Regions from separate parts of the Homo sapiens genome. Here region 1 is linked to region 2. Evidence: fine-mapped expression QTL. A gene starts in region 2. The other region holds a variant in brackets. All regions are shown on one strand. Distances are from middle to middle.

Region 1 (16,780 bases), 27 kb before region 2:
ACTTGACAGTAACACCTGAATGCAACTGACATGAGGCTATTTATGATTCTTCTTTATCCCACCTAGTGTGATTATTCAGTTTCCCTGGAGAATTAATGTGTCTGATTACTTGGTGTGCTCAGACCCCCTGGGGATATTATGTAATCTGCATTATATGCAACATGTTGCTTTTCTAAAATCCAGTTCTGAATTCTAAAACATATCTGGACCCAAAAAGTTTTGGATAGCAATTATGGACTTGGAGCATGTAACCATCTGCATCAAAGAGGATAAAACATATTTCTATATATGTAAATAACAGAAAAAGTTTTATGAAGATACTTCACTGCCTTCAGGGAAAGGATTTGGTCAGCTGGAGTGAGGAGGAGATTTATCACTCAGTCTATACCATTTTGTACTTTAAAATTTTGAACCATGAACATGTATCATTTATGCAAAAAATACGGAAAGTTAAATGTTTTAAAAATCATCACTTGTAAATACAGGGCAAGAACCTGGTCTATTTAAAATACATCCTGTTAACTAGCCTTTCATATGCAATGCTTCACACCCATTGCTGGTGGTTACCTTGATCCATATCCTACTCGGTCACCATAAACTCCCATTTCTCTTGACTGTCACCTTACACATTTCCAAGTCTTTCCGATGCAACTGTCCCTTCCTTTAGAACACTGTTAACATTTTTTTCTGCGTTTCTTCTTAAAATTAATTTTTAATATTTATAATTGACATAATGATTGTACACATTTATGGGGTACAGTGTGATGTTTCAATGAGTGTATACATTGCATGATGATCAAATCATGGTCATTACTGTATTTACTACTTTAAACATTGATCATTTCTTAGTGGTGATAACATTCAAAATCTTCTCTTCTAGCTATCTTAAAAGTATACACTACATTGTTGTTTGCCAGAGGCACCCTACTGTACAACAAAACACCAGAACTTATTCTTCCTAACTGTAACTTTGTACCCATTGGCCAACCTCTCCTGATCCCTCTCTTCCCCACTACCTTCCCCTACAGTTCATTTCTTAAATGAAACTTGTATCTCCCTAACCTACCTGATTTATAATTATGTCTGTAACTCTATAAAACATATAAGTAATTGGCCAGATACATGCTTACTTATTTCTCTTATCTTCTCCATTACACTGGAAATTCATGAAAGCAGAAATAAAATAATCTGGCTTTAAAATTTTTACTTGGTACAGTCTTTCTTACATTGATGGTTAGTTAAATGGTGTGTATGTTTGATCTTCCTAAAGTGCCTTCCAGGGCTTGCCCAAACAGTAAGTGAAAAATATTTGCCAAACTGAATTAAGCTTATAAAACACAATCATTTCCCAAGAAAATGGAAAATAAAATGGAAAAAATAATCAAGGCAGGCTTTTGAAGACTCACACAACACCTGTAATGACAAGAGTCTATGTAGGAGATAGAACCCTAGGCTAACAGGGAGCTACTTTTAATTTACAACTCTCAAGAGCTGAAACAGCCACTTGTGGTGGAGAAAACCCAGTAATGCTTTTGGAGCTCTTGCATGCATTAGATATGGTTTAATAAGAATTACTGCAAGTTGGCTGGGCACAGTTGCTCACACCTGTAATCCCAGCACTTTGGGAGGCTGAGGCGGGTGGATCACCTGAGGTCAGTAGTTTGAGACCAGCCTGGCCAACATGGTGAAACCCTGTCTCTACTAAAAATACAAAAATTAGCCATGGTGATGCGTGCCTGTAAACACAGCTACTTGGGAGGCGGAGACACGAGAATCGCGTGAACCTGGGAGGCAGAGGTTGCAGTGAGCCAAGATTGCACTCCGGACTGGGCAACAGAGCGAGACTCTGTCTCAAAAAAAAAAAAAATTACTGTGAGTTAAAAATTACATTTTTTCTTGTAATGTTAAGGAAAAAAGGTTATCTACTGATTGTTATGAGCCCCAAGGACCTAGGGTTGAAATCTTTAAAAATCATGGGCTACTAAATTTAGAAACAGCCTAGATCTTTTTCTTAGAATTCTTGAAATCACTTCAAAATGATTTTTGAGAAGGTCACTAAATTGCATTAGTTTGCACATACAATTTAACAATTAGTCTAGTTTCTTTTTTTTTTTTTTAAGGCAGAAAGCGGAGACTTTTAAAGAAGGGTGAAATTCCACTCAGTGACGTGAAATTTCCGTCTGACTATACATTTCATTCACATCCACTGTTTTGGCACTGGTAACAAACAGTTGCATTCAAAACCAGCAAAAATGAAACAAAATAACTTTTTTTTTGGAAATTAATCTTATTGAAGAAATTCACTTTCAAACTATGTCCCTATAATCACAAACTAAAGAGAAAACATCTATGTCGTTTTCAATACAAATATGTACTTGTTTTAGCTGACAATATTTTTTTTTTTCAGCTAGAAAACCCTTGACAACAATTCTAAGTCACCAGTCTCGCTTTACTGCAAAGAAAATTAACTCCAGGGAAGTCACAATTTATTGGATGTGTTCTATCTGCAAGGTATACAATTATTAAAGAGAACTGGCTGGACTCAGTACAATATTGTCTAATAAGTATTACACCAAAACAGAGGTCTGTACTGAATGCCATGGAGAAGAGGGCAGATGGAGGCGGGTGGAAAAGCAGCCCCAGGAGGGGCTTTGGCGAGGACAGGTTTCATCTTCCCATCCTCCGTGGGTTGCTAAGCCTCTGCCACCCTCTGCAGCAGAATTTCAGCTGCACCAGCACTTATGCCTTGCAATTGGCTGTGTACTTATTTGTCTCACCCAAGGGCTGCCTCTGAAAACCCATTTCTTCAACAGCATGCATGTCATCAGCAAGGAGTAAGCTCTCAATTAACATCCAGTAAATGAACTAGATTGATGAACGACTTTGGGGTGAAAATGGGGAAAGTAGAGCCAGACATCCAGAAGGACAGAGGATCACAGTCTATAAGTGGGGAGGTGGGAAGAGTAAGAAAATGGGGTTGGGCAGGAATGGCAAATGTGGGCAGAAGACAAGAAAACGCAAGAGGGAGAAGGAAAGGATAGTTAAGGAGCACAGGAATAGTCAAGGAAATGCTTTACTAGGAAGGTGAAACACAGAGTTAAGCCCATGGACAATTTCTCAAGAGAGATGAATGCATGTCATCTTTGGTAAATACCAAGGTTGGTGCAAAAGTAACTGCAGTTTTTGCAATTAATTAGGTTGGCGCAAAAATAGCAATTACTTTTGCACCAACCTAATACTAAATAAACAGAAGGTGTGAAACCACAGACTTATGTAACTGTAACAGTCTTCAGTTATTTGAATAACCTTTTGTTTGCACATTTCAGGTAAAAGCTTGTAGATATTTTAAGTATGTAGAGAGCTGACTTGGCCTTAAAAATGACACTCAAACTATGCCCTTCTTTTGTGCATGGAGTGAAGACTTTACCTAAGAGTTTAGTGCTGGGCCAATATGGGCTCACCCATCTGTGAAGGGAGTGGGGAAGCTGCAGCATAAACTCTGAAAGATACAAGCAAACTAGTCCAAGGAAACACATCTGTACTAAAACCACAGGACCTTGTAAACCAGGCAACCTTCAGTAACGGGAAAGGACGTTTTCTATAGAAACCTTCCTGTTTTGAGAAAATGGAGCAACAGTCCAGTCAGATTTGATTTTCATTTCTTTACGTGATTAATAGGAAATGGCTACTGTGGCTTAACACCATTGCAGTCTGGCAATGCCTGCGTCCAACCCACTGACACCACTAGCTACAGCATGACCTTCTTCAGAGAAAGGTAACACCACCTTAGCGAGAACAGACGGGCTAACATATTAATAATGGTGATTAATGCTTTGACTGAAAAATAAGCAGAGACAATTCTAAAGGTATTTAAATGAAAAATGTGCAATAAACATAACCCTGCAGTAGCACACTAAGAACTGGTGTTCCCACAGTGCTGCTGGTGCCCCCAGCACCTGTATTGGTGCCCTTTTCTCATCCTCTTTGCTCTACTTAGCACACTCTCTCCCCATTTCTACCTGCCTAAATCCTTGTCATGGTTCAAGATCCAATTCTAACTCCCCTTTCCCCATGACCTTTCCTGATGCTGCCGCATGGATAAGCCTTTTGCCCTTACGAACATTACTTAGCACTTAAAATGTTCTGAAATAGCTCTTATTATTTTGAGATACGTCCCATCAATACCTAGTTTATTGAGAGTTTTTAGCATGAAGGGCTGCTGAATCTTGTTGAAGGCCTTTTCTGCATCTATTGAGATAATCATGTGGTTTTTGTCTTTGGTTCTGTTTATGTGATGGATGACATTTGTTGATTTGCATATGCTGAACCAGCCTTGCATCCCAGGGATAAAGCCAACTTGATCGTGGTGGATAAGCTTTTTGATGTGCTGCTGGATTTGGTTTGCCAGTATTTTATTGAGGATTTTTGCATCGATGTTCATCAGGGATATTGGTCTAAAATTCACAGCCAATATCATACTGAATGGGCAAAAACTGGAAGCATTCCCTCTGAAAACTGGCACAAGACAGGGATGCCCTCTCTCATCACTCCTATTCAACAGAGTGTTGGAAGTTCTGGCCAGGACAATCAGGCAAGAGAAAGAAATAAAGGAAAAGAGGAAGTCAAATTATCCCTGTTTGCAGATGACATGATTGTATATTTAGAAAACCCCATCATCTCAGCCCAAAATCTCCTTAAGCTGATAAGCAACTTCAGCAAAGTCTCAGGATAAAAAATCAATGGCAAAAATCACAAGCATTCCTATACACAATAACAGACAGAGAGCCAAATCATGAGTGAACTCCCATTCACAATTGCTACAAAGAGAATAAAATACCTAGGAATCCAACTTACAAGGGATGTGAAGGACCTCTTCAAGAAGAACTACAAACCACTGCTCAACAAAATAAAAGAGGACACAAACAAATGGAAGAACATTCCATGCTCACCGATAGGAAGAATCAATGTTGTGAAAATGGCTATACTGCCCAAGGTAATTTATAGATTCAATGCCATCCCCATCAAGCTACCAATGACTTTCTTCACAGAATTGGAAAAAACTACTTTAAAGTTCATATGGAACCAAAAAAGACCCCACATTGCCAAGACAATCCTAAACCAAAAGAACAAAGCTGGAGGCATCACGCTACCTGACTTCAAACTATACTACCAAGCTACAGTAACCAAAACAGCATGGTACTGGTACCAAAACAGAGATATAGACCAATGGAACAGAACAGAGCCCTCAGAAATAATACCACACATCTACAACCATCTGATCTTTGACAAACCTGACAAAAACAAGAAATGGGGAAAAAATTCCCTATTTAATAAATGATGCTGGAAAAACTGGCTAGGCATATGCAGAAAGCTGAAACTGGATCCCGTCCTTACACCTTATACAAAAATTAATTCAAGATGGATTAAAGACTTACATGTTAGACCTAAAACCATAAAAACCCTAGAAGAAAACCTAGGCAATACCATTCAGGACATAGGCATGGGCAAGGACTTCATGACTAAAACACCAAAAGCAATGGCAACAAAAGCCAAAATTGACAAATGGGATCTAATTAAGCTAAAGAACTTCTGCACAGCAAAAGAAACTACCATCAGAGTGACTAGGCAACCTACAGAATGGGAGAAAATTTTTACAATCTACCCATTTGACAAAGGGCTAATATCCAGAATCTACAAAGAACTTAAACAAATTTACAAGAAAAAATCAAACAACCTTATCAAAAAGTGGGGATATGAACAGACACTTCTCAAAAGAAGACATTTATGCAGCCAACAGACACATGAAAAAATGCTCATCATCACTGGCCATCAGAGAAATGCAAATGAAAACCACAATGAGATACCATCTCACACCAGTTAGAATGGCGATCATTAAAAAGTCAGGAAACAACAGGTGCTGGAGAGGATGTGGAGACATAGGAACACTTTTACACTGTTGGTGGGACTGTAAACTAGTTCAACCATTGTGGAAGTCGGTGTGGCGATTCCTCAAGGATCTAGAACTAGAAATACCATTTGACCCAGCCATCCCATTACTGGGTATATACCCAAAGGATTATAAATCATGCTGTTATAAAGACACATGCACAAGTATGTTTACTGTGGTACTATTGACAATAGCAAAGACTTGGAACCAACGCAAATGTCACTGTGGCACTATTTACAATAGCAAAGACTTGGAACCAACCCAAATGTCCATCAATGATAGACTGGATTAAGAAAATGTGGCACATATACACCATGGAATACTATGCAGCCATAAGAAAGGATGAGTTCATGTCCTTTGTAGGGACATGGATGAAGCTGGAAACCATCATTCTCAGCAAACTATCGCAAGGACAGAAAACCAAACACCACATGTTCTCATTCATAGGTGGGAATTGAACAATGAGAACACTTGTACACAGAGTGGGGAACATCACACCCCAGGGCCTGTCGTGGGGTGGGGGAGGGGGCAGGGATAGCATTAGGAGATATACTTAATGTAAATGACGAGTTAATGGGTGCAGCACACCAACATGGCACATGTATACATATGTAACAAACCTGCACGTTGTGCACATGTACCCTAGAACTTAAAAGTATAATAATAATAAAAAATTAAACAGAAAAAAACGTTCTGAAAAACACAACTGATTCCCACATGGCACTTACTCTCCACCTTGTATCACAGTGATGTGGAATGTTCCACTACTAACTAATATGCCACTTGAGCGCTGGCATTATTCCATGCTCACTTGGAACCCCCTGAATACCCAGCAGTGTCTACTCAAGGAAGCGACATCAAACGGCCAATAAGCAAGGGGCTTGGTCTAGGTCTTCCATGAACTGCCACTAATACACACTGCGGAGGGGTCTGTGGTCACTGACTTCTAGCTCCCTGTGTTTCCTGTGTTTTACCTAATTCTTCTGATGCCATTTTGCAGATTACAAGTTACCCAGCTGCATATGGGGGAAAAGAATGGCTTCAGTTATTTCCTTAAAGCCTAAACAGACACACTTACAAACGGGTAAAATGAAGATATTTTAATAATCTTAACACAGACGTTTCACACTGCTGTTAAAAAACAAACAAACAGAAAAGTAGTGTAAGGAGAATTTCCTACCTAACTTTAATGTTATTTTCTCATACTTTAAATTCTGGCTATTTCTTCTGAACAGGTTGATCAAAGCCATATGAGGTAGCAACACAGAAATGTAGATGTGTAGGTGGGCAATTGTGTTGAAAAGGGAAATCCAATCAAGTCCTGTTTAGCAAGGCAAAAAGCAAGACAAAGACACAGGTGTTCAGCTCAAAGCTGTTTAAACTTCATAGCAGATGGCAGGCAGGGGTGAATCAGGCTGGTCTGAGTTTTAAAAAGGAAGCCTCCATCAAAGAAATCTGTCTTTATAGCCACAGTTTGCACACACCCTAGAGCAGCCTTTGGGAACGTCAAACAGAGGTGTGGTCATACAAACCACAGGCTGGGATTCTTCCTCATATTTGTATGCAAAGTATTAGGAGAAAATAATTTACTCTTTTCCAGAATTTGGGTAGGAACCTGTACAGCTATCTTTCTCAGAGACCTGAGAGCCAATGAACTTCTACTACTAATCTAGTAACTGAAAAAATATATATTATGACCTGTATTTCACAAAAGCCTTGGATAATGCCTCAAAGACACTATTATATCCTTGGATAGGCCCAGTGTGGCAGCAGGAAAACAAATTCACCAAAAATCTCTTGATGTGACCCCATAAGAGTAAGAGCTCCACCTGCACAGAGTTTACTAGCGTTGGGCACCGTTCCAAACACTTAACACACACCAATTCATTAAGCACTCATTCTAACCCTGTGAGGAGGTGCCACTAACTATCATGCCCATTTTACAGATGGGGAAACTAAGGCTTGGAGAGGTGAAACCGGTTGCTCAAGGCCACTTAAAGTGACAGAACCAAGATCTCAAGTTGCACAGCTGAACGAACCACTACCCCATCATGCAGAAATATTTCAAAATAATTCCCTAAATTTCTCTGAGTAAAAACCAGGCTGTCATGTTAAAGATTTTATAGGCATGCTTTGCCTTTTCTGCCTTCTGTAATACTTGGTGATGCAGCTCACATTCACTTCTTTGATTTCTGGCAACCATAACTGAATTAGAGTTGACTTACCACTTCTCCTTCCAGGACCAGACTGACCATAAAGAGGGGAGGGCACTTTATCAGAGCTGAAACTATGAGACTATGCCAGGCTTGGACCACTGCCTGTGAGATATTTCTGGCAAAAATAGGATAGTCTGGACCCAACTTTTGGAAGACAAAGACACCGGGGGCCAATTGACACCAACCTCCCACTCAAGAGCCAGCAGCCCCTAGGTTGGGCATGGGGTGTCTCTTTTGTAGAGCGCAGACCAGGGTCCCCCTTCACTGCAGGAAAGGGCTGCCTTCATCTCAGCCCCGACTTCCAAAACACAATGCAGGCGTCACTCTGGTCTGTCCTTGGGGGCTGGTGGTGGGGGAAAATCCTGCACACCTGAGGGAACTCCTCTGAATGTGGGAGGCAGGAGCATGAATGGCCACAAGGGCAATTATGTGAATGTGCTCTACAGCTAGGGCCTGGGGACTTCTCTGTAGCCTGATTTCTTCTCATTGAAGATAAAGTTCCCCACGTGCCACCTGCCCTCAGCTCCTGCTCTTTCTGCACTTCTCTCAAGCAGCTGAGTAATAAAACTGATAAATCAAACCTACCTTATTCACCTCTCGAGCTTCATTTCTAAGTGAAGCATTTGAACACTGTCCAGGTAGACCAGAGACAAGCCA[AGACAAAGTC/A]GGCCACGGTGAGGAAACAGGGCCAAAAGCAGGCCCGGATGTCCCTGTCCTGATTCACGTACTACCAAGACAAAGCAAGTCAAAATGAGCACTAGGCACAAATTCTACAACAATCTCTCTTCTCACAAGAATTCTTCCTCTTCCTCAGAACAAATTTCTTTTTTGGTGATGCTCCCACACATTGTCTGAACCTCCACGTAGCTATTATTTAACTTCAAGCTGCATTGCTAGTTGTTTACATATTCATCTGTCTCTTGGTTATAAATTTCCTGAAGGATAGAGTCCGTATCTTTTTCATTTTGGTTTCTCCCAAGGCACCAAAATGTGTACTTGCTTTACACAGAGCAGGCATTTGGAAAATGCTGGTTCAAATGATCACAACATTTACTCTAACATGAAATATTTAGTGTCCACTTTCTACTTTAAATTTATTGACTCTTTAAATTTTCACAATGGTCCTCTGAGTAGCTATTGCTGTTCTTTTCCCATTTTGCTGATGAGGGAGCCTGAGACGTGGAACAGTTAGGCCATCTGCCCAACTCACAGCATTGGCAGGGCCAGGGTCTAAACGACTGTCTGGTGGCACAGAGTGTGTGCTTTACCACTAACCACACATGCTGCTTCTCTGTGCCCTGGACCTACATAAGTTTGAATGACAATAGCACTTTAGCAGGGAAGAAACAAATGAGAGCTCCTAATCCTCCATGCTTTTGCCCTTGCAGGTCCCTCTGCTTGGAAAGCTTTTCTCCCCTTTCTATTTCTAGAAACTCCTACTGGTTTCCTTCAGGCCCTGCTCAAGACTCAAGTCTCTAGAAGGTCTCTTGGTTCCTCTAAGTGATTAGGGACCCTCTGCTGGGCTCATGTATACATTGATGATATAGTCACCCATGTGACTATATGTGTGTGTGTGTATATAGTTCTATATGTGTGTACATATAGTTCTTTGCTATATCACAGCTCTCATCACCTCATATATTATACGCTGGCTTTCTCAATTTCTCAGCCCAGAACACTCTGAGGACGAACACTGTCTTTTCACAATACTTGGCATGAAAATATTTAACAATTGTTGGCTGTAACAGTTTATTTAGCACCTACTAAGTGCTACTCACTGTGCCAAGGGCACTCACATATACTTGATCTCATTTAATTCTCCTAAACTCCTGTGAGCTGAGTACCAAATCATCCCATTTTCTGGGTAAGAAATCTAAGGCTTAACAGATCTCATAGACAACACTTGAATAAAATCTCCCCCCTCAGCTCAGTTTAATAAGGTCCCAGAGTCTTTCTGGCATTCTTGGCCCTAAACAGAGGGCAGGGCTAGTATCCTGAGGAAAAGCAGGATATTCTCTTGCAGCTTGCCTGCAGATGGGTCTCTCGGGTTCTTGCTCCTAGGCCTTGATCTGAAACCTGTTCAAGGAGTGGGTACAGTCCCCAGGTCATGAGTCAAGAAAACCTCCAAAACTGCAACTCATTGGTTTTAGCTCAAACCACTCAGGCGTTGCGTGTGTGTTTTACCCGAGTCCTGTGAAATCACTATCACTAACCACAAAGGACTTTCAGTTACGAATAATCACCATTTCCACGAAAGGGAACAACCTGGTATGTAGCAATCTCAGTAAGGACACACACACACACACACACACACACGGAGTATTGGGCTAATAGATGAACTATCAGAAACCCGATTAAATCTTAGCCTAATACTGCCTATTCTAAATCTCCAAGGAAGAATATTAACTCAAAGGAGATAAATCAAAACCAAGTATTTGGAGTGCCTATAATGTCTTGGTAACTGTGCTGGGTCCCGTGCAAGGTATAGAAAACAGAGTTATTTTTATTAGCTATATAGTATATACTAATAAGCATAAAGTAAGCCACTGACATCTAAAAATGACCTATTCATAATTATCGCTTTCTTTCCCAGAGTGGTATAAGCAAACATTTTATTCTGGGTACAAACCCAAAGTTAGTTCTCATTAAAAATGATCCTAACTTGCTTTAGATTTATGCTTAACTATTGGGAAAAATATTTTATAGCAACTCTATCTGGCTTTAAAGTTCACTAGTTCAGTATTTATTCAGGCTTCTAAAAGTTATTTAGAATTTAAGTGAGCAGAATATCATATTAATCATAGTGATGCAATGAATGGGGAAAGGAGGAACAGAAAACTCAAAGGAAAAAAGTTCTTCAAAATGTCATGAGAAAATCCAGTTATGCAAAGCCTATTTTAAATTCTTAAAGGTCTTTATAGCTGCTTGATTCAGGGCCTGCAAATATATCAGCTTGCCTAAAAATTTCATTTTTTTCTACCAAGAAATCCCTCTTCCCTTTCTCAACTTAAGATATAATTGACAAATAAATATTGTATATATTTATAGCGTATAACGTGATGCTTTGATATATGGATACACTGCAGAATTATTAAATCAAGCTAATAAATATATCCAAGAAATCCCTTCTTAACCTCCATGGCTTGAAAACTTAAAACTTTTACATCTCTGGCTAACTCGAAGTCCACGTATAGACAGAAAGTATAAGGCATAAGCCAATGCAAGCTATGATTTTGCAGGAGAAATTGATACCTGAAGAGTTCAGGACATAAACAATTTTATATTTTGACTCATTTGTTCATCATTTAGTAAAAATATTTTTATCTTTACATATTTTCATGTTTGATGAACAGTAAAAAAAACTGCTGGTGGACTACAGCAGAACATTCATATAACTAGTATTTTCTTAACAGAAAAATCAGACTGCCCAACAGAGACTCTTGTACTTCATCAAACACACCCAACACCTGGCTGTTTCTTTGCAGGAGCAGGGTTGATCAGACTCCGACGGGCAAGGAGTCCTCTCAAGCAGGGACTTGCCATCACCAAAGATTTGCAGCTGGACTGCACTCCCGACCAGCTTTGGAGACTATGTAGATTCTCTATTACAAACCAGAGAGGGACGTCAAACAGAGTAAACATGTGACAAGTTCCAGCAGGGACCAAGGAACATAAAGATACAGATGGTACCACAGAACATAACACAAAACAGACCCTCAGCTCCCCTTGCTCTTGTTCTCAAGCTGCATCCAAGTGTGCTTCGCGGGACTCTTAACTCACTCACTGTTCTTTGCCCTACCGACTCCATGCAGTTAAAATGCCTAGTAATGTCCTCCCAGAGGTACAGCCCCAGACCACTGCATTTGGGGCCTGAAATTAGTCATTGCAAAGTTTTCACACTGCTTAACTGGTAAGACAAATATCTTCATGTCAGCCATGTGCTCATTCTTTTGCTCCATTTTGCACACAACTAATAAAAACTGGAAAATGCCTTTTCTAAGGCAAAGAAAGTTATAGATGTGAATTTCATTCTTTTATATAAACGTAGTCAGAGTCAACATGAAGAGTTAAAGCTTTGATAGTGTGTGGCTATCTAGATAGTGTGATGACTACTCTTATTACCCCTTAAATAAAAAGTACTTGCTAATTTGATTTTAGATGATGAAATTATATAGAGAAATTACATTTATAACAACAATTGAACCTTGTCTAGCATTTTGTCTTAATAGTAGCACAAAAATAATTCTCTGCTTCTTTCCACACACAGGTCATCATCTCTGCCTCTTCTTTAGAGATTTCTCTATTCCAGCCCCCTCTACTCACTTTCCTAATAATTGCTGTTATAAATGCCAGTGCCAATCTCCAATTTTGATGTATTCATATCCTCGGGAAGCTGCTAAGTGCTCAAGGCTTCAAAGTACTGTTCTTACTTGAAACTCATGTTATCTTTTTATCTATCACCTTGAATGTCCACACATCAGATTCACTATCTTTCTCCCCATAATGTCTCCATCAGCCTTTATGGTGCCACTTATGCTCTTAGCTAATTGTACTCACATCCTTAGAACGTTAACTCCCTTGTATACAGCTGGTTGTTGTATACAAGATGGGTTTTCCTTTACAAATTTCAAGGGTGCAGTTCTTTATTGCCTAGATGCATTTATTCATGTCCTTTATGATCTCATCCCCAACTTCTGCTGCTTGCAATCTACCTTGAGCACTGTAGCTAAAATCACTCTCCTCACATGTTGTTTTGCTCCTGTTAATAACTTCCTCGGCACTCTGAAACGGTTTCCACTTGTGTGTTGCATAATACCCTGGTTAGTGCTTTTCAGATCCTTTAATAGTCAGGCACCCCTTATCTAATTGTCCTCTTCTCTTGCCATGACTCAGCTGTACTCGACGGCACTGCAACGCAAAATCCAGGTGGGTTTGTTGTAAGACTTTTCAAAAGAGGATGAAGCTACAGGGTACAAATCTGACAGTAGGGCTGTAGCTAATATCTCCACCACTTTCCTAACTTTCCTACAACAGCATTCATTTTCAGAAATATGAGTAGTCATACCACTGCTGTTCTCCACAAATTTATTACCTTTCTGGATGTTTTTCCTGGTGGTAGAATGAAGGCACGAGAGACCTGTGTGCATATGAAAGATCCTTGTTTTCAGGTTCTACTACTGGCAATGGGAGCCATTACGAAACATCAACCCAGAATATCAGGAGAAGATTAAACAGGCTATGAAGCTAAAATTAAGACCTATTACAAAAAGCCACGAAGACGACACTGCCCACAAATAATGAACACTGGTGACCTTTACTGCCTTTGAGGGGGTTTTTTTCTCCTCGGGCTGTACATCATTAGATGGGGTCTTCTCCCACCTGGTAAAATTTCGATCCACTGTGAACAAATCTTCCCTTAGCTTCCCTTTAAAATGTTGCCGAAGGACCAACTTCTTTACGAAGTCATTCCAGAGCAACTCTTCCTGGCACCAGACACACTAATCATACCGGGACCTTCTTTATTCACCTCGTCTTTCTAATATTTCTCCCTTTTTCTCATTATTCAGTATTTCTTTAGGGTGTTAAGTGTAGCCTAAAGCTGCCTCCTTACATATTTTACATTCAGCCTAAAGGTTTCTCTGCACACCACGAACTATAACCTAAATGGAGTTGTATACAGATTGTAGCTTACTCTTGTGTCAATCACTGAGTTTTGGGCCAATCAAAGGGGGTCAACGATTCGAGCCGTGTTCAAATAAGGCAAATGACGAGCTGTAGCCAATCAGCTGTTTCTGTACCTCACTTTCCTTCTTCTGTCTATAACCCTTCTTCAACTACACAGCTGCACTGGAATCTCTGTACCCACTCTGGCTCGGGTGGCTGCCTGATGTGCGAATTGTTCTTTGCTCAATTAAACTCTGTTAAATTTGGCTAAAGTTTTTCTTTTAACCACAGCCACATATGCATATTTACATAGACACTGTTTATGGGGAGCGGGGTGCCTGTCTGAGGCTTGTTTTGTTTTTTCCCTTTGTTGGTGTATGCCTTCTATTTCCCTTGAAGTATCTTTAACATGTTGTCATTGGGTGCTGAATACAGTGGCACATCTTTAACTGTTACAAATATAGCAACTGTAATTTAAAGAAAACTTTTAAACAATAAAGTTTTGTAGCTGAACTTTTAACACCACAAAAGTGATTCATTACTAAAAAGTTTAAAGAAAAAAAGAAAAGAAAACCTTCAATATGTTCTTCTCGCCCTCGTTTTCACTTACGGAATTAAACAGTAGTGACTACTTACTCTAGAATCACATTTTCATAGTTCCAACAATGGGCTGAAAGTTACTCTGATCTAGCGAAGAGTTAGAATAATTTTTCAAAATGCTTTTACTGTCAAATTCACACAGTACCATGAAAAACAACAAAAACAAAATATCACTAGGCTATAGGCCAAGTAAAAGTCTTTGGAACTGCTTTATAAACAAGTCAATCCACTCCTTTGTTAATTCCTAGAAGACTAGCCATTTTGACGTTTATATAAACTATGAAACCTTCATGGAATGTGGCAGAGCACTAATAAACAAATACGGGACTGACTGAATTGCTTCGTGTTATTTTTTTAACTACCTCCCATGTACATGCATTTTCTCTAATTGACTCTAAGCTTGTGTGTGCGTTGTGGGGGGCGGAGGGGGTCAGGCCCACGCTTTTTCCTCCATTCACATCTAGCACAGTACTAAGTGTGTAAGTATTGATAATACTTCTGATATAAACAAGAATAACTGGTAAGTGAGTTGTGTGCGTGGAATGTTTACTGCTACTTCAAAATGGTTTTAATTTTGGTTAGAGGGTCCTAACTATAATCTTGTTCCGAAGTATACAGGATGACATTTTCCCTTTTATACCATCTTCTGATTGAGGAAAAATCTGGAGTTGGAAAAGTAAAATGTCAATGTTGTCTCACTACATTTACTAACTGAATAATTTCTATAAGAAGCATTGGTATTGTTATGTGAAGTCAGGTTCAAAAACAGGCGAAAGGAGAGGAATTCACAAAAGAGTAGAGATCCAAACTCAGGTTTTCTGTGACAATCTGGTCAAGTTTTCCACTTCCTCACCCGTTTCATTGATAAGAAAGAGAGACCCAGAAAGATTACTTGTTTCATATGTACTTGTTTCATATGAATGATGGAGCCTTACTGGCCCCCCGCCCCATTTCCCCAACCAGCCGTATACCGGGAATGAATCACTACATTTTCTAATTGAATAATTTATCACCCATATACTGGGAATGAATGAACCTTTTTCATTAACCTTAATAGGGGTATTAGAGTATCATCCACACAACATCTCAGACTTGCCTCTGTTCCTAACCCACTACTTGCAGTCCATCAAGTCCTGCTAATTTTATCCCTTTTGTCTCTGCCACCCTGCCCTCAACCAGGGTCTTTTATCACCTCCTCCACAGACCAGGCCTCCGGTCCTGGCCCCACTTAAATTCTTTCTCCATGAAGCAGGCAGACCATCCATTCAAAGGCAGATGGCTCCCTTCTCAAATGCCTTTGAAGACTCCCCAAAGCCAAAAGCAGAAAATGCAGCTCCCAAACCTTGGGAATTTTGTTTCTTATCATATCCTCCCGATGCACTTTCCAAATTTTAGTGTGCCCAAGAATAACCTGAGAAGTCTGTAACAAATGCAAGTTTCTGGACCTTATGCAAAGAAACATTAATTCAGTACTGGGTGGAGGACTAGAGAATTTTAAGCACCCCTTGTGATCTGCTGCAGTGGGCGGACAGATCGCTCCTGGAGAAAGCGTTCTTCCACTATCCAACTGCTTGCAGGAACTCACACTGTACACTTTCATTCCACTCCACCTTTGCTCAGGATCTTCCTCCAATATGCAACACTGGCCACTGTTTGCTCCCTAACTTCCACTCATTCTTCACCTGCACAGGCTCAGCCTCATCCCTGTAAGCCCCATATGCCCTCAGTGTTCTTCCCTCTTTTGCACTGTCATGGTTTTTTTCTTAGAATTTACCATGTTATACTGACCTTATCTTTTTATGATTGTTTGGCTCACAAGATTTGTGGCTGTTGAATGAACAATGTCTGTTAAATGAAACAGTGGCCAAATGAAGTCTATGACTAAATAATACTGTTCCCAGACAGATCTTCTTTTATGAGCCTAAGCAGGGTACATGGGTTCAAAAAAAATTCCTATCCCAATTCTCAAAACCCAGTGGAGGGGAAGGGCTTGGGGCTCTGACGCTGCCGTGTGCTTGCCATGTGAATTTCCTATGCCTCAGTTTCCTACCAACTCACAGGGTTGCCATGGGGATGAGAGGAGATGACAGATGTCAAATTCACACAGCAGGTAACCACTCAAGACCTGTTGGGTCTTTTTGTGTGTAGCCAAAAGGTATCACCCAAATTACTGACCTCAGACCACAAGAAGAGAACAATGTGCACCAGTGCATAACACACTTAGGGGAAACCTAGCAGCATCTACATTGTTTCCTTAGGGAAACCTAGCAGCATCTACATTGTTTCCTTATCTGGAAACACTGCCAAAACATTCATTTACTGCAAATTGCTAACTTTAATGTTTCTGTACACA
Region 2 (16,780 bases):
TTGAACTCCTGGGCTCAAGAGATCCTTCTGCCTCAGCATACCAAAGTGCTAGTATTACAGGCATGTACCATAGCACCTGACCTTGACAAATTCTTAAATGCAAAATGCAGTATTGTTAACTATAGGCACAGTGTTGTAGTGCAGATCTATAGAATGTATTCATCTTGAGTAACTGAAACTTCGTATCTGTTGAACAGCAACCCTCCATTTTCCCCACCCTACAGTCCCTGGCGACCACCATTTTACTCTATGTTTCTATGAGTTTGACCATTTTAGATCAAGTCAGGTCATTGCAGTATTTGATTAAGTGAGATCATGCAGTATTTGTTTTTCTGTGACTGACTTCTTTCATTTGCATAATGAATTAAGCATTTTAAACATAGCTAAGTAACTATGAAGTAACTAACTGGCTAAAAGTATAAGGTCTTAAACTAAAGATCTCTTGATTATAACTATATAATACAGTATTCCCAAATGAAATAATACTACCCCCAAAAGACTTGCAACAGAGAGAACATGGCTAGGACTTGGGTGAGGGTTTTATGATACTAGCATAATCAGAGATCATCTCTGCATTGCCAGTCGCTTTCTGTTATACAAACTCCTCCAATGGAAACTAATGATAAGTCGTTTGTTAAAGTGTTCTGCACAGGTTCATTTTTCACCTCCCAAGACTGAGCTGACTTTAGCATGTCACTAAGTTGTAACAAGAAAACATGGAAGAATCCAAGTGTGCATTTAAAATTAGAGGTCAAGGCCTAACAAATGTTTATCACTAGGTCTAAAAGTAAGCCAGCAAGATTAGATGTGCTGAGTATCTGATCTATAAGCAAACTGAAAAGCAAAGTAGATCCAAAACTGTGATCTGAAGTAAAAGATGCCTGGTAGAGAAGACAGGAGAGAGAGAGACCCTTCATTAAAGTTTGTGCTGATCAACAAAAAATAATAGCTTTGAAATGAAATTAGTTTGGGATAAAGATGAAAACCTTGAAGACTTTTAATATATAATATAATATATATCTAAAAGTAATGCAAAATATGCAACCTTATTTAGTGGTAGCCCTACTTATTTTTTAAGTAGAGGAATTAAAAAAAAAAGAACTCTAGAAGTACTAAGTTGAACCATATGATGTCACCATTTTTTTTTGTACATTAAAAAATTTGAACATTGGAAATTTCATATGGCTCCATCAAAAAAAAGGGAGGTTCATTAATTCAATGCCAATAACAAAAACCTGAAGACATGCTAACATTTTGTGGTTTCAAAAGGGCGTTTACTTCTGTGGAAGAGTGTTATTGAAGCAGAAACAGGATTTTTAATATTCTATGCTACATTTATGCTTCAAGTCTTACAAAGCTGTGGCTAGTCAGTACTCACTTAAATAAGACTAAAAATAAAATTTTCCATTTATTACCACACCTTTTTCTTTTTGTCTCACCTATGATATCCTTCCCTAATAGAACTTTATTCCCAATAGATTTTTCCATCCCTCTTGCTGGATCCCTGAAACCAGCTATTAATGGTAAAACTTCAAGCACGTAGTCCTTCTGTGCCCACACATACACCCCACTTGTCAATCTATTATTCACCGGTTTTCTCCTACTCACTCCAGCCCTTCTCTACTGCTCTTCTTTCTTCCAACCTTGGCACATTGAGAGTCCCATCTGTCCATGTCAGGTTGTCAGGTTCCCTCCACCCCTTTCCTTTTAATACACCAGTGACCTAATCTCTTCTGCATAGAATGTGGCGATTCTTGTAGGTCTCTTTGCCTTTCCCATGTAGCTGTTGTTTTTAACAATGCATGCCAGATTTTGTCATGTTATTTTCCACTTTTGCCATATGTAGATTTTGGTGGCTGTCTCAAAACCAATTTTACCTATAAGACTTCATAAACAGAATCTGAATTGTATAAGCTAGGCTAAGTGTACATACCTCCGATGTAAATATCAGAATAAAGGTACACATCTATACTAAGTATGTTTCTACGTGGATTGCTATTTTCTTTTGGTACACAAAACACAATGCTTGCTATGGCAGCATTTCAGAGGTCCTTCTTACAAAAAAAAGAAAAGAAAACAGCAACTTTCCGGGCTCAGGAAGATGAGCACAGGGTCTCAGTGAACTCCCTCACGCTGTTAAATATGAGGGAAGTAATTTAGAACAGGAAGGGGAGCTCAAAGTGCCTTCGACATTTTTTGATGATGGGAAGTTTCAGAACAGTGCAGGTACATTTCTGACTTTGATTCTACTGAGTGTAATCATTTTTCACCTTTGATTTTTTAGTAGTTGTAGAAAGCATTTAGCGATGTCACTGGCAGATAGACAAACATAATATTTGATACTCCATTGTTCTGACCAACCCAGCAAAACCAACCACCCTGCATTTACTTACCTTGAATTTGCTATTTCCACTTTGGTTCTGGCCATGGCAGCTGCCCTTTGGGCGCCTTCAATTGCTCTGTCCACCTTCTCCCTAGTTTTTGTATGTCTTATTGGTATAAGCTGCTTCCTTATCCCACGGACCAGAATATTATTTTTGTATTTTCCCTCTTCTTTGGAGCCGTCAGGAAACACGGTACAGCCATATCCATGCCTCTTGTTATTTGCCCACTCCCCTTCATACTTCATGCCATTGGAGCGCTCGCTAACGCCGAAGCCGTTGCGCTTGTCGTTCTTCCACTCGCCCATGTAGGTTTCCGTGGTGGTGGCGTCCACGTGGTCTTCCACCGGGCAAAAATCACAATCTACATCGCCAAAGCTGATCGTGGAGTTGGCATCGCTGGAACTAATTCTGCTCATGGCCGCGTCGCTGCGGACAGAGCTGCGCTTGCTCGAGATGGAAGACTTGGATTCGGACTTGCGAAGTTTCATGCTTCCAAGAAGGGAGCCCCTCCGGAAGAGGCCGCCCTTCTTCTTGCCCGCTAGCTCAGCGTCTGCGTGGAAGTTGAGCACGAAACCGCCGCGGGTGCCGGCCGGGCTGTCGGCGGCGGCTGCGGCGTCGTGGAGCACGCTGCCATTGCTCTGCTCGCTGCGCAGCGAGGCCAGCGAGGTACGCAGCGGTGAGCGGATCACCGTGGCCATGCCGTAGGGCACGCTCTGGCGCACGCCGTAGCCATGCCGCATGCCTCCGGCCCACTGGCCCTGGTAGGTACCTTGGAGAGACCGCAAGAAAGCACCGTGAGTCGGGGGCAGAGCTGCACCGTCACCTGCACCATCCAGCGCACACTGGCGCAGGCCTGCCCAAGGTCAAATCTGACCCATTTCCAAGTCAACCCTGGGGGATACTTTGCATCCACTTGTGAATCCCCGCCCTGTAATTTTGGGTGTAAGGCTTTAATGTCATTGCACAGAATTTTCTAGTAGTCAGATAATTTTTGCTTTTCATTAAAATTTTATGCAAGTATTTCAGAGGAAAACCACTACTTTCTAATACAAAAAGTGAACACTGGGAAACAACATTCTCCTCTGAAATTAATGCATCAAAAATTCCTCTTGGGAAGAAGACAAGGAAACAGTAGAAGATGAAATGAATTCTATGTGTAAATTTTATTCTAATATTACTAATTTAGCTGGAAAACTGTAAAAAATGACTTTTAGGTCTATGTCAGTATAACATTCCAAGAAGTATACAGGCTTAAATCGGAATACTTGGGACACAGTCATCAAATGAACGTCTTAAATTTTCTGCTACATTCAGCATCTCTTTTTTTAGTGTAGACAAAACTGTTGAATATTCAGGATTATCATTTGAATTTGGGTGAACCTTTTTGAGCTAAGAGAGAATCGACAACCACAATATATATTATGAATACAGTGAATTATGAAAAAAATGAGTAATTTAACATTTTTGTGCTTCTAAGTGAAAAGGCCAAAGCTTTGTGCCGTATCATTTGCCAAATCTCTGCATCCTCTATGGATTTCCCTAGCTGCCACTGCATTGTGAATCACACCACAGACTAGAAGCACCCTGAGGGCAGGAATTACTTCGTATGAGAACACAAAATTCTCATGTGTCCTCTGGTCTGTGTTTGTGGATGGAGGGTGTTTGATGACTATGTTGACGGTAAAAAGCTATGGTGGCTAAAAAGTATACCCTTTACTCTTGGAGAAACTGATGTAAGGCCAGATGAAATCTTCTACTGTTACCATTTTGGACTTCATCTCAGAGGAAAGGTATATTTGACACTATCTATTAAAATGTTGATACCAGATGACTCTGTCAACAAATATTATGCTTTTTCATGATAGTCTGTCATCTAGAGCATTTGTAGTGAATTTTTTGCTACTAAATAAATAAGCAAAGACATTAAAAAATAACCTGGTACAGGTTTTAAAATAATCTTAGGAGGAAATGAATGTTAAATTAGGGAATTTAGAAGTTTCTTTTCAAAATCAATTTCCTTTAATTAAGGGTAAATTTTAATTTACAGTATCCCTCAAAAGAAGCTATCTGGAAAATTTAAAATGTAATTACTTCTGTGTTATTCATAACAATTCACAATGTCATAGAAAACAAATAATGATTAGTCTGTCTTGACCTCTTTCCATTTCTGATTATATAGATCTACCCTGCAGTCACTTTGCATTTTATATTTCCATGCACAGATTTCCATTGCATGGCACATATTCATTTTCAAAACACCGGGCAAAAATGCTAGTGGTTTTATATAACTGTGTTAACAATGGCTGGTTATTTCATTGCACTTAAAAGTTAAAACCATAATGACTCCCAAGTCAACGGTTTTGACCAATTTCAAGACTACCTTCTCTTTTTGTTCATTCTGGCATATGTGACACAGGCAATAGTAGATATACAATGAAATACTAAGTGGGTCTGGTACTGTAAATGTCATATTCTGGGTAGATGTGAAGTCTTAACTTGACATCTATGAACTTCTGAGGAGGTGGGTGGCCCACAGTTTTCTCTGAAAGATTAACTCAAGAGGATAAGATAGTCATGTAAAACATTTCAGGCTAAGAAGCTTCCTATTGAATACTGGCCATCTCCAAATACCGCCATCTTAACAGGAATGGGAATGGAATTATTAGGAAATTTTGACTTTGACTTTTCCTTTGCCTATACAGGTAAAATTTAAATTCTAGGATGAAAGTTTCACAATCTGGCTTGAAGATACTAAAATAAACCACCTTATTTTTAATATTTTGTTGGTTAAAAGAATGCTATAATCACATCCTCCTAACTTTTGTCTATAGTGACAAGTTAATTTTGCTAGAACAATTTGCAGAGATGCTGTTTGATATCAATAAGTATCTGCACTTTTAAAACACAGCCATACCATCTTGGTAAATGTTTAACACTGATGGAAAATTAACAGCTAGTTTCTTTAAACTGTTATCTCCAAAAATAAGACTAGTACAGTATTTAGAATTTCCAAAAAAGTATGGCTTGAAAATCCAAGCTGTTTAAGGCAACAGCAATAATTAGAAAGTTTAAGTCTCTGCTTAACTGTCAAATAGGGAAGGGGGGGACAAGAGCATTGGCCACATTCCTCTCCTATTTTGTTAAATCACAGTATATGAAAGAATTCCTCCACAGAATTGCTAGAAACCAATTTGCAGTCAAACTGTTAGCAGTTCATCTGAAATTTAAAATAGGTTTAGTTTAGTCAATGAACCTAGAATAAGAAAGGGCCTATTTCTTTATGAAGCAGGTGGGTTCCAACTTCTCCCTGCTGCTCAAATAAAGTTCTAATTAGTTCCTCTTGATTCCTAAAATGTAGATGCATATTTCACAAGTATAAAAATTACTTTTACCAGTTTTAAACTGTGTTCATTTGGGAGCTAATTTTTTAGATTTAGTCATTTTAACTACACAATCTTGTAGTGGAAGGCATCCAGTTTAGGAGTTTCAGTCAAATTTGCACTGCACTATGCCAAACTTCAGTTTATATGCTCCGAATGGGTATGTGCAAGTATGCATCTAGTTAACAAAACGTTGTGTTTTCCCAGATATTTTCAATAGTTTTATGACAAGTGAAAAAACAAAGTACAGATCAGAATTAGCACAAAAAATTCTGGGCACCTAGACTTGGATTTCATGAGTATGATACTAACTTATTGTTAATATTCAGGGGGTTTCTATTTCAGCAACATGTAATACACAAATCACTAATAAAATAAGTGATACGTCTCACATGGAATTACTGCTTCCTTCCTCCTCCAGTTTAATGTCACCACAAAAAAACTCGGAATCAGATTTTCCCTGAATCTGATACAGGGTGTACAGGGATGGACATGTGGCGATGGGGAGAGTGCAAACAAAAACAAGCTAACTCCTTAGTGAGAACAGCAGAAAACAAGCTAATTTTTTAGTGATATTCCTATTTTGGCCAAAACCTTTGTATGAAATAAGTTACAGCAATAAACTTGCTTTAGACTCCCTTTTTATGATTGAGAACTTTCTAATGAAATAGTTACATATGAGACAGTAGAAAATCTATTAGCATAGAGTAGACATTCAGTAGTGATTTTTAAGGTTTTTCTTCCTAACTGTAGCATATTAGATTTTTTTTTTTGGTAGAAGAAGAAAACCACAGTACCACCCAGGATGATGCCAAGTTTTAAGTTTTTTTTTAAGTTTATTTTAAAACTGAAGGCAGATTATTCATAAAATCATTCTGGAGACTTATTTGGGTTTCTACGACATGTACACAGACAGCCTCTACTGTGCTATATATATTTTGATTACTAGGTATAATGAATACTCTAAACCAAGAGAGTGTGTTTAATGAATAGTATCTTTAAAAGGAGACGATTTTTAACCTTCCAAAACTGAAGAGAACCATCCCTGGCCTTCTTAAAAGATTATAAAATAATGCACACATTTAAAACAATAAATTTTGCCTTCTACTTTTGAGCATGGAATTTAGTTATATAGTAGAGCTGGGGCCTCCAACAAAATCCAGTCACAAACTGACATATTTACAGCGCTGTCAACCAGGTACTTTATGCCCATTCAGAACATTTAAGGGTCCCAATTAACTACTGTGAAACTCGGGACTCAGCCCCACATAAAACTATTAGAGAACGTTTTTTTCTTTTAATCCATGAGAACCATATGCTTAATTTATACTGTAGGATGAAAAGATGTCCTTTTTAGCAAGTTCTACCATTCTGCCATTTTGCATTTGAAACACGGCCCAAGTGTTCTGACTAAGTGAAGTGTACAAATTGTGTAAGCTTTTATATAAGCAATGGTATAAATGGGGTTGCAGTGGGCTGGAGAAACTTTTAATTGCATCCCTTTAATATCCTCCAACTCTGAGCTGCTTAATTCCAAAAAGTGATGTCGCCTCCTACAACCCTTTTCAACTAAATATGATTATGTTTATCAGGAAATGCACTTTGCTAAAGCATAAGCTATTCATGAATATCTTTCTCAGCGTATTACACAAGGAAATTCATCAGGTTTTGACACCTGTTTCAATAATGTATACTTTTCCTAATAAAAGAGGAACTTCTGTCCTGGTATATACACAATCTCTTTGGCAAATATTGTTAAATATTAAAATAAGGTGATCTTTGTTCACAGCCAGGAATACTGGCTTAGGTCACACATAATGCAAATTATTGTTTCAGTATTGCCATTCTCAGGAGTAGTAGCTGCTAACTTAGCAGCTATAGGAACACACCTGCTAATTGTATTCTTTAAAATGTAGACTTCATTACCCATTTCTAAAATATCTTCCTAGTAATTTGTCCAAGATCTCCAGGTCAGCAAAGACTGCTACTCTTTTAAGACCAATACTTTAAGAAACGGAATGAAAACTAGGAACTCACACACTCTGAACTCCACCTGCATCAGGTGGCCTTTCTGCTCCCATAACTAGGACGTTTCCAAATGCACCCCCAAATAAGGTACAATTCCCCAACATCCTAGTTACGGGGTTCTGGCTTCTATCTTTAGGCTACTGGAGGACCAGAAGCGAAATACGACTCCACGTGAAACCAATCCCGGGAGCGGTCAGCACGGACCGCCAACCTCACCCGCTCAGGGTGTTCGCTCTAACTCCACGGGAGTGGCGATTTCAAACCCGGCCGGGAGAGGGAGGGATCAGGAACGTAATGTGACGGGCTCAAGTGACAGCGTCCTCTCTCCAGCCCAACCCTCCCGGGCGGCGCTCCCTCCCGGTGGCAGCGCAGCGCTGGCGCCGGCCAGGTACATTCACGCCTAGCTCCCCTGAGTGTGGATACACGGCCCGCTCCAAGAACGGGGTCAGATCCAGCCCTCGCGCCCCAGTCCGGTCCCAGCGCCCTCTCTGGGAAAGGCGGGCGCGGGCGCGGGGGTGGGAGGCGCCCCCAGGTGTTTTGGCGGGTTTCCGGACACGTGCGCCCGGCGTCCTCCCCGCTTCCCCGCAGCCGGGGCAGAGCCCACCGCACCAGCTCGCGGAGCAGCCGAGCCGCCCGTTACGCCGCTCACCTCCGTCCCCGTAGGTCTCCACGCCGTACCCGTCTTGCAGCCCGTTACTCCAGGTACCCTCGTAGCGAGCGGGGGTGCACAGGCTCTGCCGGACCCCGTAGCGCCCCTTGAAACCATGTGACCACTCCCCCCGGTACATCCACTTGCCCTTCGTCTCCACCCCCAGCCCGTGCCGCTTGCCCTGCGCCCAGTAGCCCTGGTAGGTGTTGCCGCTGGGCCAGGTGTAGCCTCCGACCACCTCGAAGCCGTGCGACCAGGAGCCCGAGTACTCGCCCTGGCCCTTGGGCCCCGTGCAGATGCCATGCCCGTGCGCCTTGCCCTCCTCCCAGCCGCCGCAGTAGGTGCCGCCATCGTCGAAGTCGAACCTTCCGCCCGTCATTCGGGGGGCAGCCCCGGCGCGCTCCCCGCAGGGGCACGGACGCGGGCAGTGCTGGGCACGGCAGGGTGTAGCTCGGGGGTGGGGGCCCGGCGGGCGAGCTCACGACAGCGCCCTGGGCAGCTCGCGCTGCCGCTCGGCTCCAGTCCGACGCCGCCCCCGTCCTCCCTCCTCTTTTGCCGCCGCCACCGCCGCCTTCCTCCTCCTCCTCCTCCTCCTTCGCCGCCGCCGCCTGGGCCAGCGCCGCGCGCGAGAGGACAGCCCAGGTTCCCGAGCGGACCTTCAGCTGCTCCCGCCCGCCCACGTGAGCCGGGCACCGCCCCGCGCCCGCCCCTCGTCCCCTCCCCGGGCGCCGAGGCCCGGCCCCGCGGCGCTCCCGCCCCACCGGGCCCTGCCCCCAGCCCCGGGAGCCGCCGCTTCCTCGGCAGGCGGGCGCGCGCGGGGACCGGCTGGCGCGCATGTGTTCGCGCAGTGGGATGCCGGTGGGAGGGCGAGTGTACCCGGGGACGCACGAGAATCCCTGCCTGGAGATGAAGGCGCGGCTGCCTGTGTGGGGGCCGCTCGCGGGCGCCGGAGCCCCCGGTGTTTGTGTTTGGGGTTTTTCAAAGTGGTTAAGCTCCTGTGAGTGCGGCCACGTGTGTGTTGAGGGAAAACTCATTGTATGCGTGTTTGTCTGCATGGGGTTTGTAGTTGCATTGTTTTCGCATTCCAACTTGTGTACTGTTGCATTTGTCATGCTCAGCTGTCATCGTGAATTAATATCGCCTAGATATATGTATGCATGTGATGTAAATCTGCGGCAGCCTAGATATAATTGTGCAGAGTGTTCTTTTACACCTACCCGTTTCAAAGCACACGTGTTTGCATTTATTTAATGAAGACACTGAGGGTGAGCAGTACAGTTTGAAAAAGCACAGAATATATTGGTTAGTTTTTTATTAATAGTGATGAAGAGGATGTTTTCAATCGGCCTTTGCAGTGGTACAGGATATTCCTTTTACATTAGAGCCTGCCCCCTCTCGTGCCTCGTTTGTGCTTCTTAACAGCCTTAGAGATTCTTGAGCCTGGAGCTGTGTGCCCAACAGGTAGACGGCTCGGTCTGTGTACATTGTATAAGTGTCTGGAATGCACACCTCTCCACTGGTATCCACTGTTTAAGAAAGTAAATAGAGGTTTGCAAGGAGGAATATGGTAAGTAAAGCACTGCTCTAAACTTGCAAAGAAACTGTGACCTACAAAACCAGGGACAGATGTCAGCTGGTCTACTTTCTAGCTACAACACTGCTTTGTCGAATTCACTTTAGGCAACTCTTCTAAACTTTTAAACCTCCATTTCACCATCTTCTGAATGGGACTAACAAGATTTGCCTTTCTCTTTCTATATTCGGTAATAACTGAGTATATTGTGGCTGCAGTGCCAAACCAAAAATTAGAGATTTGGTAATAGGCAAGTTGGATCAGCATTGCCTCTGGTGAGAGAAAGCATTATTCTCCACCTCACCCTCAAAATACCCACGGGAGAAACTTCTCCCACTTTCACAGCCTAGGGTCTTAGTTTGGCCTCTCAAGGAAACTGATTTGGAGTGTATTCCTGCTATTTCTTAGGCTGAGAGGCCTTTGGGTGACTATGCGAGCATCAGAAGCTGCCAAAGGTTCTCTCACTAAGTATTTGATAATCAGATATAGATATAAGGACAGGTGTCAGGAAGACAGCCTGGGAAAAAGTAGACTAAACTGCACAGAAAAGGAACTGAAATTGACCTTGATTGCCTCTCTCTCAGGACGAGAGCCGACCTTTCCTACTTATCTGGCTGAAAGACTGAAAGAAAAATCTCAGTTTATGCAGAACCAAATCACCAAAGAGAATTAGAAGCCCTCATCCATGGCACTGCCCGCAGAGTTGCCAGGAATAGTGCTTACCCTAGTGGCCTGAAATAATTATGCATCTCTCGAAGCATCTTGTCCTGGACTGGGGATTGATTTAGGCCGCTGGGAAGATGAGGGCCAGGGCTTTGCGGCTGAGCCATAATTCCATTTCCCTGTTATGGGATACACCAGAATCAGGAGCTAATGTAGAAAGATGCATTCCCATATATTTTGAGGTTCTGTATGATATGAGAAAAAGTGTGGTTGCTCAAGCCAATATTTTGAATGGGGGAGTCTCTTTCTAAACTAGACTTCCTCATAGAGTAGTCTTTGTCCCTTTGCCTTTTTTTTTTTTTTGGATCCACCCAGTGTGTTAGGACCCATATATGTTCTTTAAGGGGATAAATTTTGGAAACCTTTATCTCTTTATTTATTACTCTTCCTAATTAGTTGTCATGCAAATGAGGGATTTTCTGGAACACAGAGCACAAACCAAGTTTCTGGCTTCTGTAATGGATATCTAGTCTATTTGTGGTGGGAGGTGCACACACATCTGGATTGAATATGAAGATTTGGGGAGGAAAAAAGACATGGCCATTTATTGCTTACTCTTTTCCTGTGGCTATCCCTAATAGATGCCTTGCAAAGAACCTTAATTAAAAGTGAGACTTTACCACTAGGTATGTATGATTAAATTTTAACTAATCTTAATCCTAGCCTAGCTCTGATGTTGACTTTCTTTATGAAAGAAAGTTGGTATTTTTGGTAAATTACTAAACAATTTTTGGCAAATAACCATATAAACCATGCTTCCATTTACCAGCTGCCATCACAATGGAATGTTTACCCAGTCACGAAGACATATGTGTTAGTGTAAGTGTTCAGGGTCAATGGTAACGGTTGGAGAAGACGGGGAGAGAATACTAGGAAGAGGAAGAGATGCTGAGAGTGATGGCATAGCAGATAGTAGACAGTGGAATAATGTTGCAGTTTAATAGTCAGGGTTAGTAATGTCCTTATTTTCCCTCTCCCTCTGAACCTTTGCCCTGGATAAGGGGGAGTTGAATTTAGCTTTAAGAAGGGATTAGTAAGAAGAGAATGTGAATGTTGGTTTGACAGGTGGAACGGGGGAGGCCATGAAAATCCAGGGGCCAGCAACTACCCTATAGTTTGTTTTCCTCCATGTTAAAAACCTAGTTATTATATATTTCCATTCTAAAAAATTTTATAACATATTGTAAGCTATTTTGAGTGTGACTATGACCAGTTAACAACATATTAGTAAGGATGTTTTGCTGGAATTTAATGATGTCTTTCAAAAAATGAAGGTGTATTTAAAAATTTATTGGTGACTTCATTTTATTTACATAGTAGATTAATTATTGGCTGGACAAGGTGGCTCATGCCTGTAATCCCAGCACTTTGGGAGGCTGAGGCGGGAGGATCATTTAAGCCCAAGAGTTTGAGACTAGCCTGGGCAAAATAGGAAGACCCCATCTCTAAAAGAAAAAACAAAAAAACAAAAAAACCCCGACTGATTATTGAGAGTTTTTAATAAAAAATTTACAAATGACAAAAAGCTAATCTGTAGGTGTTTATTGTCTAAAAACCATGATTCAAAGTGTGTAGAAAAACACATACAATTAAAATCACTTGATATATAAGTCAAAAAGTGTTACCATCTTGATTTATACAATCAAATAATCAAAATTTGAATATTTGCAATAAAGAATTTACAAACTCAAGAAATTTGTCCGTGATAAATATAAAAATTAAGAAATATGGTCAGAAACTTTGCAGGCAGTGTGAAATCAGAAGAGGAAGAGAATTCCAAAATTAATGGTCTTCAAGTCTTTTATGGCAACTACTGTATGACAGATACCATACTAAGCTTTTTTTACAGGTATGAATTCATTTAAATCTCATAGTTGTAGATGATTTGTACTAGTCGTACAACCATTTCACAGAAGGAGAAAATAAGGTTTAGCACATTCATAGGTACAGAATTATTCAAGGTAGAAATGGTTGAGGTGGGATTCAAACCCAGGTCTGTGTGACTTTAGAGGAGGTTCTTTATTCCTGTCCTTGATTGGAGAGAGGATGAGAACACATTGAGAGCTTTCAAATGCTCGGCGGAGAACAACAAGGTGCAGTAAAGATGACTTTTATTTCTTATTTTTTTAGATTAGCTGCCTGGGTGAATGATAATGTTGCTGTCTAGATTTTTTTTTTTTTAAAGGAGGAAGGAGAGTAAATTATGGGGGCTGCAGAAGATATATTTATTTAGGAGACAATGATCCAGAAGTATACCCCAGAGATGATCAGTAGGCAATTCAGTAGGAGAGGTCAAAAATTAAAAATAAGTAGGTTGATAAGTAAATAATGCCCATTTTTCTTCTTCCTCTGACAGCCGTTGTTCAGTAACATCCCCTTCTGAGACTTCCACTATTCACTCGGGCCTCGGACATAGCCTGGACTTGACTTTGATCCAGCAAGTAAGGTCCAGTAAGGCCAACTCTCTGGAATTTGAGAGTATAGGTCCAGCTGAAAATTGCAAACTGGGATTTTACAATTCCACTCTGACGGCGTTCCCTCATTGCCACTCTCACTGAACACTCCGTTGGTTCTCCTCAAAGTCCTCCATGCTACATAGCACAACTTTTCCCAGGCAGATTCCTGATATTTATCACCATCCTGGAGCCCATCTCCACTGCAGCTTTCTCCTGCTGAGCAGAGGACACTGTCTTCTGTCTCACAGAGGAAGAAGGAGCTAGGAACACTTGCACCTTTCCTCTCTTCAAAAACTTTACACAGGTTCCCATTTTCTTCCTCTTCCCATTCACCTGCCTCCAAGAGGAAAAGATAGCCTTTTTCCTCCCCAAGTTCTGGGTCAGTTCCTTCTCTCTCTCTCTGTCTTTCTCTTTCTCTCTTTTTTGAGATGGAGTCTCGCTCTGTTGCCCAGGCTGGAGTGGAGTGGTGCAGTCTTGGCTCACCGCAACCTCTGCCTCATGGGATCAAGCAATTCTCCTGCCTCAGTCTCCTGAGTAGCTGGAATGATAGGTGTGTGCCACCACAACTGGCTAATTTTTGTATTTTTAGTAGAGACGGGGTTTCACCATGTTGGCCAGGCTGGTCTCGAACTCCTGACCTCAAGCAATCCACGCGTCTTGGCCTCCAAACCTTCTCTCTTTTAAATATGTTTTAATTTCTTCTCTTTCAGCCAACAAACAAGCTCTTGTGTTTTCCATATTAAAACAGTCCTAATTTGCTGGTCTACCATCTCCTTAAGTCCTCTATGTCTTTTCTTGAAACTGCAGATCTTGAAAGAGTGTATTCTGGTCTTTATGTCCCTGCCTCCAATTTACGTACTACTTGATTTGGATTCTGTTCTCACCGGTCTAGTGAAGCTTTTCTAGCCATTAGGGACCTTCTGTTTGACAGATATGATGGCATATCTTCAGTTCCTATCCTGCTAGTGGCAGCAGTGAATTTTATACTTGGGGACACTCATCTCCTTGGCTTCTATGATGCCCATATTTGTGCTTCTCTTCTCCCTCTTCATCTCCCACCACTTCAGCTGTGTCATTCTCTGTGTATTTTTCATCTTCTTATCCCTTTCTAGTCTCCTTAACTTTATGCTATCTGTTGTTTTCCAACTATTAGCCTTATGGTACCAGAATTTTGTATAATTGCTGGATATTTGTTGGCTTATCTTGTATAACTAGGCAATCCTGCCCTAGAAGCCAAGAGTCTGATTTAGAAATAGTCTAATTCTGATCTAAAAACACCAGCTGAGCCTATTTAACTTTCAAGGGCAATGCTTTGGTTTCTTCTCATGATGCGTCCCTTGTGGCCCTCTGCCTCCTCTTCCTAATGGGGAAAGCTCCACATAGACCTGGACACCATCCATGTCTAATGATGAGGCTCACAGAGGGTTTCAGGAAAGTTCTAACAATAAAAAAGGTAACCTCAGATGAAAGGGAGACTTGAAAGAGTGGTAACTTGAAGACAGAGTGGATTGCAGGTCTGTATTAGAGGTGTAGTGCCTGAACCAAACCACAAAATGTGTACGTATATGTATGTATATGTGTGCATATGTTTATTCATCTTATATATGTGTACATGGTTACTGTCTTAGGTATGGAGACATAGAGAAGTAAGGCTCAGCCTTTGCACTTAAGGATATAAAATATCTCTAAAGAGACAGGAGATGAAAAAGAAAAATAATAAAAATACAAGGGAGATAACTACAAGTAGCCAATAAGTGCCAAGTATCGTAAGAGTTCAGAGGACAGAGTGATTTAATGGATTGCTATGGTTGAAACAATTTTCAGTAATCATTGGCATGTTGTTTAACTTTATGGATATAGTAAAGGCATACCCTTCTAGATATTTATAATGCAATGATCTTCTTGAATTAAGAGGCACCCTACCAAGGGAAGGAATGAAGGGAATGAAGGTTTACCACTCTTTCAAGTCTCTCTTTCAATCTGTGATTGTAAGAACAGAAGAGACTTCCTGAAAAAGAAATCCCAGGCATCCGAGGAGACATGGCGATGAGTTCATCTCTCATCCTACATTTAAAATCACAACGCTTTGTTCTGAAACTATGACTGAAAGGCAACTCAGTATTTGAAATTGCACGACTTGGAGATAGCAAGGGAATCTAAAAGCATTTTGAAGAGTGTCAGTATTGAGATGTTGTTAAAAGTTGTAAAAATTGATGAGATAACCTTTTCATAAAGCAGTTGCATAAAGAAGGGAGGTACACAATATTGTTGAAAGCAAAGGAGTAAGTAGCTACTAAATGACTCATAGCTGAAGGAAAGAAAAACGCAATCAATTATTAGACAGTAAAAGAAATGTAAATTATAATTGAGGAGTGAATGGTTCCAAGAGCTCAGGAATGGGATTTGAAACAATAGCCAATAATAGAAGAGGCTTTCCTCTAACTGAATGACAAGGGGGGATGTGGTATCTTTGCCAAGAGTTGCAGTACCAATCTGCATATCAGCTCAGCATGCACACCTCAAAGCCCTTGTAGGCCATTCTTCAGATACTGATTGCATTCCAAATAAAGCTTAAATTCCTCTTCCTTTCCTTCATCCCACTCTAGCATTTTTGTCATCTCTTGCATTTTACATCATTTTCATGTGGCAAGCACTTTTTAAAGCTTACAGAGACATCAGAACACCCAAAGAGTGGCTGTGGAGGCTCACTGCTCAGATCTGCCTTCAAGAGAACCTACAGTTTGGAGGGTACTTGGCAAAGAGACTCCAGCTGCCACAACTTCACATCTCCTGTGGGTTTTGCATCAAGGCCACTGCCCCTGACAACCCCTCCAAGTTAAGGGTAAATTGATGCATCTTGCATCCTCTGCTACAAAAAGGAAGCAGAACACCTGGTAGGCCTACTCTTTGGTTCTGGAAGCAACACATACACACTTAGACACTACTTCAGCTTATGTGCTAGGTGACACAGAAGGGAGGCCACCAGCTTTGAGAGGGCTCAGACCAGGAAGGGGTTTTTCTAGAGGCTCAGGTTGTGATGCAAGCAGCCCTGCCTCTTGGGCCATATGATCAGGCAGATCCTATGGTGTTGGAGGTATCAGTGGTGAGAAAAGATATATGAAGATTATGGCAAGCCCCTGTGGAAGAATCACAGTTGCAAGTCTATGGGGATCTAAAGCAAGGATCTATATCATCTGCAACAGGCAATCTTACATCTTTTGAGAAACAGTTTACTTGAAAGTTACTTGGCCTTGGTAGTAAAGGAGTGCTTGACCATGGGAAAAAGTGCCTGTTCATTCAGAATTTCCCATTATGAGCTTGAGTCCTCTTGACTCAAGTCTTGACAGACCCAGAAGCAATCTATTGTGAGTTGGGACTGGGATCCCCAGGAGCAAGCTGAGGGGGACCAGAGGGCATGAAAAGCTGCAAGAACAGGTTGCCTTTTCTTGAGGGCTGTGTGGGACAGACCCTCATGTCCCCCACCTGGGTTCCACTGGTTCACTTCTCTGAGCAGATTGGGGTTTCAGATAACTAGCTGAAGGGGGAGGAAAAACCTTTATCTGGTTTACGGTTGGATGAGCTCAGTA

Alleles and levels. Positions count from the first base shown, and alleles are read on the strand shown. Sizes are in standard deviations (SD) of each study's normalised expression.
As copies of A replace AGACAAAGTC in region 1, the expression in esophagus mucosa of the gene that starts at base 9,073 in region 2 goes down (small effect, 0.37 SD a copy in GTEx).

What was found.
Region 1: its variant is fine-mapped to the expression of JPH1 in esophagus mucosa (GTEx, PIP 0.95).

The regions. Positions count from the first base shown.
Region 1 is chr8:74,285,567-74,302,346 of GRCh38, forward strand. The region is part of intron 2 of JPH1 (junctophilin 1); the gene reads right to left. Among named protein-coding and RNA genes, the nearest start is that of JPH1, 28 kb to the right of the region's middle. RefSeq lists a silencer at 10,192-10,331 and an enhancer at 15,502-16,003. The variant AGACAAAGTC/A (reference allele first, on the strand shown) is at 8,821.
Region 2 is chr8:74,312,468-74,329,247 of GRCh38, forward strand. JPH1 (junctophilin 1) reads right to left here and starts at 9,073. Exons shown (of 6, transcript NM_020647.4): 1 at 8,442-9,073; 2 at 2,394-3,153. The coding sequence starts at 8,820. RefSeq lists an enhancer at 8,140-9,030 and a silencer at 9,124-9,223.